2 linked regions of the Homo sapiens genome follow. The protein of the gene in region 2 interacts with the protein of the main gene of each other region in a biochemical or structural test. Each region holds a gene or a part of one and is shown on either strand. Other genes may lie near its edges.

Region 1 (3,806 bases), on a different chromosome or scaffold from region 2:
AGAACGGATCTGAGGAAAAGCAGGGGCACGGGGGCTCCACTCCCCCGCAGCCCCAACAGCTGCGCCCTGGGGACCGAGGACGAGAGTTCCCAGCCCGCAGACCCCCACAAGCGTAAGGTCCCATGTCCCCCCAATCCAGTCCTTGCCAAAGCCATGGTGGCCTCTTGAGACATCCTCAGCCCCAGCTGCGCCTGGAGCAGACGGCCAGGAGACAGAGCGGTGGGCAGGCTACTCCAGGTAGATGTCCTCCGTGGGGCAGGCGTACGCCAGGTGCTCTTGGTAGTACTCCAGGAAGGCGCGGCTGGGGAAAGACGGTCCTCCACCAGCCACTCAGGGCCGGTCCTCAACCCCCAAACTGCCTTCCACAGAGCCTCTGAGCTCTCCCTCCTTCCTCCCTCTGCAGCCATCCATAACCCCCCACCCAGGCATGGCCATGTCACCCCCAAGTGTGACCCTCAGCTCTCCTGGCCCAGCAATTCTACCCCTGCCAGAGTGCCTGGGCCATGTGTCTGTGCCTGTTCCCACCCCATGCCCAGCACCCCAAACTGTCACCCACCACTGCCCTCTCTACACAGCACATCTGGTTCTCCTTCCCCAGACCTCCCCTGCCAGGCTCCTGCCCCCACCTGCTCACCTCCGCTCCCCACCTCCGTAACCCTGCACCCATTCTGCACCCACACCCTGGGGCCCCACTCACCCCACACTCTGCGCCACCGGCCTCATGGACTCCTGGGAGACAAAGACGTGGCAGGCGAAGCGGCTCAGCAGGGGGTGTTTGGTGATGAAGCCGAAATAGCTGCGGGCAAGTCAGTGTGGAGGGCACGTCAGAGCCCTGGCCCAGCCTTGGCCACCCCACAAATGATGTAGAGAGAAGAGGCAGGAACAAAGGGCTTGGGGAGAGGGTAAGGGACAGGAGTGTGGGGGTCGCACAATTTCAAGATCTGAAGTTGTCTTTTTTTGGTTTCAGCCCAAGCACAGGGCTGGGCACCTACCAAGAGTTCACGCTCTGAGTTAATTCCATGATGACCAGGGGCGTCCACTCTCCCTTCTCTGAGCCGGTGCTGCTACCCTCTGTGGCCCTATTCAGGGCCTGCCCCAGGACCACAGAGCAAGGCCTCTGCCTGGCTACTGGAGACCATATCTCCTGCCAACTCAGGCCTCCTCCTGCGGGCCTAGCAGACTGACAGCCCCTTGCCCAGCTCCGAGGTGGGGCTGGACGTTACCCCTGGTCTGTAAAACCCTCTTCCGGTCTACCCCTCGCTCCCACTGGAAAGCAGCTCCTTGCGGGGCCTCGCTCATGGAGTCACTGCCCAGCTCCTCCACCCAGACATTAGCAAAAATCAAAAATCGTCGTCCAGAGGGAGAGGCAGGCAGAGTTCTGCAGCAGGACGCTGCCCCACCCCCACCCCTGAAACTGGCCGACCCGTCCATTCCCCCATGGCTTCGGGGCTTTGCGATTCCACCAAATGGGAAGCCACATGATGGTCTGCTTGCCAGGACAGTGTGTGCACGCTGTCCACAGACAGAGCACAGGGCCCGCCTCAAATGCCGCGTTCAAGTCATGATGGTAATAAGCGCCGACCCACAGATCTGGCTTCCTGCATTACTCAGGCACCATCCTCTGCCCTTTCCATTAACTCACAGAAGCCTCACAACAGCCCTCTGAGGTAGGGCCCTGATGGAGAGCTAGGCACAGAGGTTCAGGAGCTTGCCCAGGACACACAGGCAGGATGGGCAGCCCTGGGAGAAAAGGCTACAGTCTGTGATCCCAACACCAGACATCCTAATGCCAGATCCCAACACAGCACACCCCACGCTCTCCTGACCTACCACCACCGCCATGAAGAAACGAGTTCATCGTTCACCTCACACGGTTTCGTCCGTGCCTCCTCGTGGCAAGGGACCGGGGACGGGGGGTCTGGGGTGACAAATATTAGGAAGGTCTGGGCCAGGGCAGCAGCTCCTCCACCTCCTCCCACACCCCTGCCACATCTTGACTCCAAACCCCAAACTCGACTGACCACCTTCCTCTCACGAAATTCTAGCTGGGGCCCTGTCCAGCCTGAGACCTGAGCTTCACCCAGTTTCCTTCTGATGAGAAATTTGGGTCATTCTTCCTCTCCTGGCAGCGTCCGCTGTCCCAGTGACCCCAGAGCTGTCCCCACTGTCTGGTCTGCGCCCCGTCCGCTGTCCCAGTGACCCCAGAGCTGGCCCCACCGTCTGGTCTGCGCCCCGTCCGCTGTCCCGGTGACCCCAGAGCTGGCCCCACTGTCTGGTCTGCGCCCGTGCCCACTGTCCCACCTCTCCACCCCAGAGCTGTCCCTGCTGTCTGGTCTGCGCCCCTGCCCGCTGTCCCACCTCTCCACCCCAGAGCTGTCCCTGCTGTCTGGTCTGCGCCCCGTTCGCTGTCCCGGTGACCCCAGAGCTGGCCCCACTGTCTGGTCTGCGCCCCTGCCCACTGTCCCACCTCTCCACCCCAGAGCTGGCCCCGCTGTCTGGTCTGCGCCCCTGCCCGCTGTCCCACCTCTCCACCCCAGAGCTGTCCCTGCTGTCTGGTCTGCGCCCCGTTCGCTGTCCTGGTGACCCCAGAGCTGGCCCCACTGTCTGGTCTGCGCCCCTGCCCACTGTCCCACCTTTCCACCCCAGAGCTGGCCCCGCTGTCTGGTCTGCGCCCCTGCCCGCTGTCCCACCTCTCCACCCCAGAGCTGGCCCCGCAGTCTGGTCTGCATCGCTGCCCGCTGTCCCACCTCTCCACCCCACTGAGCAGCGTTTCCGCATGGATCCCATCAGACCATCTCTGCACTCGGCGGGGACAACACAAAAGGGCTCCGCACCTTCCAGCAGGCAGCACCCTCACTCTCGACCACAGGGAGAGTCCACAAGGCCCCCAAGATGCACTGACGTCTGTCCCACGCCTCAGTCCTGGCAGCACCGTGCCCTGCTGTGTCTTGCCTGTCTGTGAGCCTGCTTCCTCCAACTCCCCGCAAGTCCTTTCCAGCCTCTGGCTGGCTCTGCCTCTCTGGTTCCTCCCAGATCTCCTTCCTCTAGGGTGCTGGGACACAGAGGGCAGGGGCCTGTGCCTGGAGGGAAGCTGGCAGCCCCCCTTGGCCTGCTGCTCCTATGCCAGCACCTCCTCCTCCCCTCCTCCCCTCACCCTGCCTGGCCATTCCCCTCTCGTCTCAGTGATCTACCTGCTCTGACCTGGTATCTTCCCTCCAGGTCTCCCTCCTAAACTCCAGACCCATGGGACCAACGGCCACTTCAGTCTCACCGTTTGTGATTGATCCCGCATCCCCTCTCGGTGTGTGGGCTGCAGTACAACCATCCCCCAGGGAGACGTCACCCTGGTCTCTTCCAGGTCACCCTCTACAGCCGGTCAACCTAGGTCCTGCCTGTACTGCCTCTTCAGTGCCTCTTGCATCTGCACACTTGGTCTCAGGACATAGCACCTGTATAACCTCAGCAGCCCCCAGGTCCCCTGTGTCACCTCCTTCCATTAGGAGCCTTCTATGGCCTCATTACCAGCAAGATTAAGTACAGCTCCTTGGCATAATCAAAAGGGTCCAGGTCTTCCCCGGCATTTCTAGCTGCTCCCCTTACACGCGGGCCCCAGAGCCTATATAGCCCCCGACCAGTGCATCCCACACCCTTGGCTCAGCTAGACCCCACCAGGAAGATCCACTTCCCCACCGCTGTCACCTGCTGTGTTTCCAGGCTGGCCATCCTGAGCCCCAGGCCCACTCAGGCGTCCTCTGCACCCACACAGGCTTCTCACATCCTTCGCCCGTGTGCCTCTCTCCACCCAG
Region 2 (3,806 bases):
GGTTTCACCATGTTGGCCAGGATGGTCTCGATCTCTTGACCTTGTGATCCACCCGCCTCGGCCTCCCAAAGTGTTGGGATTACAGGCGTGAGCCACTGCATCCGGCCTGCCTTTCAGTTTAAAATCATTTGGGACACTCAAAGGTGAGGGGCTCACTACAGCCCTTCTGAGATGGGACTGTCACTTGGAAGAGGTTTCTGAGATGGCCACATGGACCTAGGGCATGGTTTGGAAGCCGGGAGAAGGCCACACTGACTTGAGTGGGTCACCTGCATGCACATCTGTTGCTCCCTGCTTGCTTACTCACTTGGGTGACTTGAGATCCCTGTGGATAATCTTGTGCAGGTGCAGGTAGTTCATGCCACCAGCGATGCCCATGGACCAGTCAACCAGTAAGGAGGGGGTGACAGGGCGGCCAGCCCGCAGTACCTCATACAGCTGGCCCTGGGCGCAGAACTCCATGAGGATGCAGTAGCAGGGAGCCTGGGTGCACACACCCCTGGGAGCCAAACAATGGTATGAAGGCCTCAGCTGGCTCAGCATTCACCTGATTCATACCTGGAACCCCCATTCCCACCCATTCCACCTATGGATCTCCTCTGGGGAAGGATGGGGTAGGTCCCACTGCCCAGGAGGGTACCAGGCCTTAGCATAGTATCCCCAACACCCAGCCCCTGCCCTGGACCTCACTTGAAAGTGATGATGTTGGGGTGCTTCAGCTTTCGCAAGTGCTTGATGTCGGTTTCTTTGAGGTCTCGCACCTTCTTCACAGCCACCTCCTCCCCGTGGAAGCGCCCCAGGAAGACAGCACCCTGGGCCCCTGAGCCCACCCACTGCAGGTCCAGGATTTCCTCAAAGGGGACCTCCCAAAGGTCTGTGGGCAGGAGGCACAGTGCCACAAGCCTCAGAAAGAGCCACACTCAAGGCCAGGGACAGGATAGCATTGGGTTGGCTGAATTGACTTAAGGAGGGTGAGGCAGAAAGCCAAAAATAGGCCAAGAAGAAGGTTCGAGGGGACAGGGAAGGAATGAATGGGTGGCCTTAAAAGAAGCTGGGAAGTTAGAGGCTGATGGATGGCTAAGGGACTAGGGCTGGGCCATGGGGAGGGAAGGGACCATTGCGTGACTTTAGCGGAGCTGACCAACAGATCTCGGGCTCAGGGAAACAGAGAGGAGGCTCCCACAAGGACGTGGCCTACCTTCCTGCTGCTGCTTGTGCTCAGTGGAGTAGGCTTTGCCAATCATGGTCCAGACAGGGCGCAGGCAGCCAAAGAGGCCCTCAAGGAAGCCACTGCCACTCTGGCACTGCAGTCGCACCTCGTCAGCTCGAACTCTGGATGCCCGACTCTCAGGTGACCCAGCTGCTCCCCCTGGGCCCCCTGCATCCTGCTCATGTAGCTGCAGGACACTGTTGGCAAAAGGCTCAGGGGGCGGCTCTCCACCTGGGGAGGGGCTGGGCCCTCCCCCACCCTGCCCACCAAGGGGTACCACATCTCGAAGTACACACTGGGTAGGCGTCAGGTCCTTCTCGGGAGTGCAGTCAGAAGTGTCTGGGTCCAGCTTGCGCATGGATGCCTCACTTAGGGTAGACACAAAGCCCCCAAAGGAAGGAGAGGGTGTTCGGGTCTCATGGAGGCAAGCCATCGCCTCTGGCCCCTGGTATGATGGTGAACACTGGGCCCTGTGGGAATGAAGGAAGGAGGGGCTGGGCTGTTAAAGCCCCAGGACTGCCTGCTCAGGACACTTATCCCAGAGGCACAGACTGGGGTGCTGGGTTCACAGTAGCCCCGCTGGAGGTAACACTTGTGGCTCCGTTTCCCATGGCCCTCCAAATTGCACCTTGAGCCATCTTAGGAAATCTGATACACTTGGGCTTCCTCTCAGGCATGTTAGTAAGGCAAGTAATAGGTAGACAGGTATCGTACCTGAGTATCATTCTCAGGTAACAGCCCCACGTGGGTACACACTGGTAAAATATGTCTCAAATTCAAGAGTAATGGTAACAGATGAGTTCCCTTCTCCCTGTAAGATGACTAATTCATTGCTGCAGCACATTTTTTTCACCCGAGACTCACAGGCACACACAGGTATCAGAAGGGTCTCACATTTACACCTTTACCTCGGGGTCAACCTCAGGCACACAATAGTAACACCTAGACCTCCTTCACATTGAAGCACACACAGGATGCTGGTAAACCTTTCAGACACCCTTGGACAGCATTCTTGAGCTGCCTACACACAGGCGATGCACCCGGGCCTCCCACCCAGGTACTTACACACGGTACTACTGAGGCCCTCTCAGGAACACTCAACTCAGGTGAGAGCCTCATTCTAAAACACACCCCTGGGCCTCTCCAAGGTAAGTGAAGGTTGTAACCACAGAGTTCTGTCCCCCCAGCACAGGTGGGGAAAAAGGCAGAAGCAGCCAATGGGGATGCAGACACTGTCACAGAAGGCCACTGCTTCATCCCCCTTGGCCCTCCCTTCAGTCCAGCGGCTCTCCCAGGGGTCAAACAAGGTCTTGTCTTCTCTTTCCTCTTCTCCATTGCCCCATCCTCTGCTCCCCAAACTTTCCAGGCAATGGAGATGTGTCCCAGTTCATAGCTGGGTGCTATTTAAAAAGCAACCATTAGGCCGGGTGCAGTGGCTCACACCTGTAATCTCAGCACTTTCAGAGGCCGAGGCGGGCGGATCACCTGAGGTCAGGAATTCGAGACCAGTCTGGTCAACATGGAGAAACCCCGTCTCTACTAAAAATACAAAATTAGCTAGGCGTGGTGGCACATGCCTGTAATCCCAGCTACTTGGGAGGCTGAGGCAGAAGAATTGCTTAAACCCGGGAGGCTGAGGTTTTGGTGAGCCAAGATCATGCCACTGCACTCCAGCCTGGGCAACAAGAGCGAAACTCTGTCTAAAAAAATATATAAATAAATAAAAAGCAACCATTAAAAAACCTGAATCTGGCACGGTGTGTTGGCTCATGCCTGTAATCTCAACACTTTGGGAGGCTGAGGCAGGTGGATCACTTGAGCTCAAGAGTTTGAGACCTTGGCTGGGCGCAGTGGCTCACGCCTGTAATCCTAGCACTTTGGGAGGCTGAGGTGGGTGGATCGCTTGAGGTCAGGAGTTTGAGACCAGCCTGGCCAACATGGCGAAACCCTGTCTCTACTTAAAAAGAAAAAATTAGCTGGGCGTGGTGGTGGATGCCTGTAATCCCAGCTACTCGGGAGGCTGAGGCAGGAGAATCACTTGAACCCCAGAGGTGAGGTTGCAGTAAGCCAAGATCACACCACTGCACTCCAGCCTTGGGCGACAGAGTGAAACTCTGTCTCAAAAAAAAAAAAAAAAAAAAAAGTTTGAGACCAGCCTGGGCAACATGGCAAAACCCTGTCTCTACCAAAAATAGAAACAAACAAACAAACAAAAAACAACAAAGCTGGGCATGGTGATCCTGTGACTGTGGTCCCAGCTCCTCTGGAGGCTGAGGTGAGATGATTGCTTGAGCCCAGGTGGCGGAGGTTGCAGTAAGCCACTGAATCCCAGCCTGGGCGAAGTAGCCAAACCCCGTCTCAAAAAACAAACAAACAAACAAAAACCCTGAATCCTGACTTGCTTCTGCCACATAATGGCTATGTGACCTCAGGCGAGCTGTAGTTGAGCCTCAGCTATACAAAGGAATAAACTGGCTGTCACTAAGGCACAGCAAACCCTTAATCCTACACCAGACTTGTCCAGAACTTGGCCCCAGGCGCCATGCTGGTCTCCCAACTCACTCCACACTTGTCAGTTACCAGATCCTGAGATTTG

Evidence for each region.
Region 1: the proteins of MAP3K12 (region 2) and MAPK8IP2 form a complex in vitro, tested with the Homo sapiens proteins (one study listed by BioGRID).

What each region holds. Positions count from the first base shown.
Region 1 is NC_000022.11:50,607,202-50,611,007, reverse strand, and holds part of MAPK8IP2 (C-Jun-amino-terminal kinase-interacting protein 2), read right to left. Parts: intron 797-3,806; coding exon 698-796; intron 302-697; coding exon 229-301; 3' UTR 1-228. UniProt on the Homo sapiens protein: The JNK-interacting protein (JIP) group of scaffold proteins selectively mediates JNK signaling by aggregating specific components of the MAPK cascade to form a functional JNK signaling module.
Region 2 is NC_000012.12:53,485,749-53,489,554, forward strand, and holds part of MAP3K12 (mitogen-activated protein kinase kinase kinase 12), read right to left. Parts: intron 1,681-3,806; 5' UTR 1,644-1,680; coding exon 1,199-1,643; intron 875-1,198; coding exon 691-874; intron 500-690; coding exon 308-499; intron 1-307.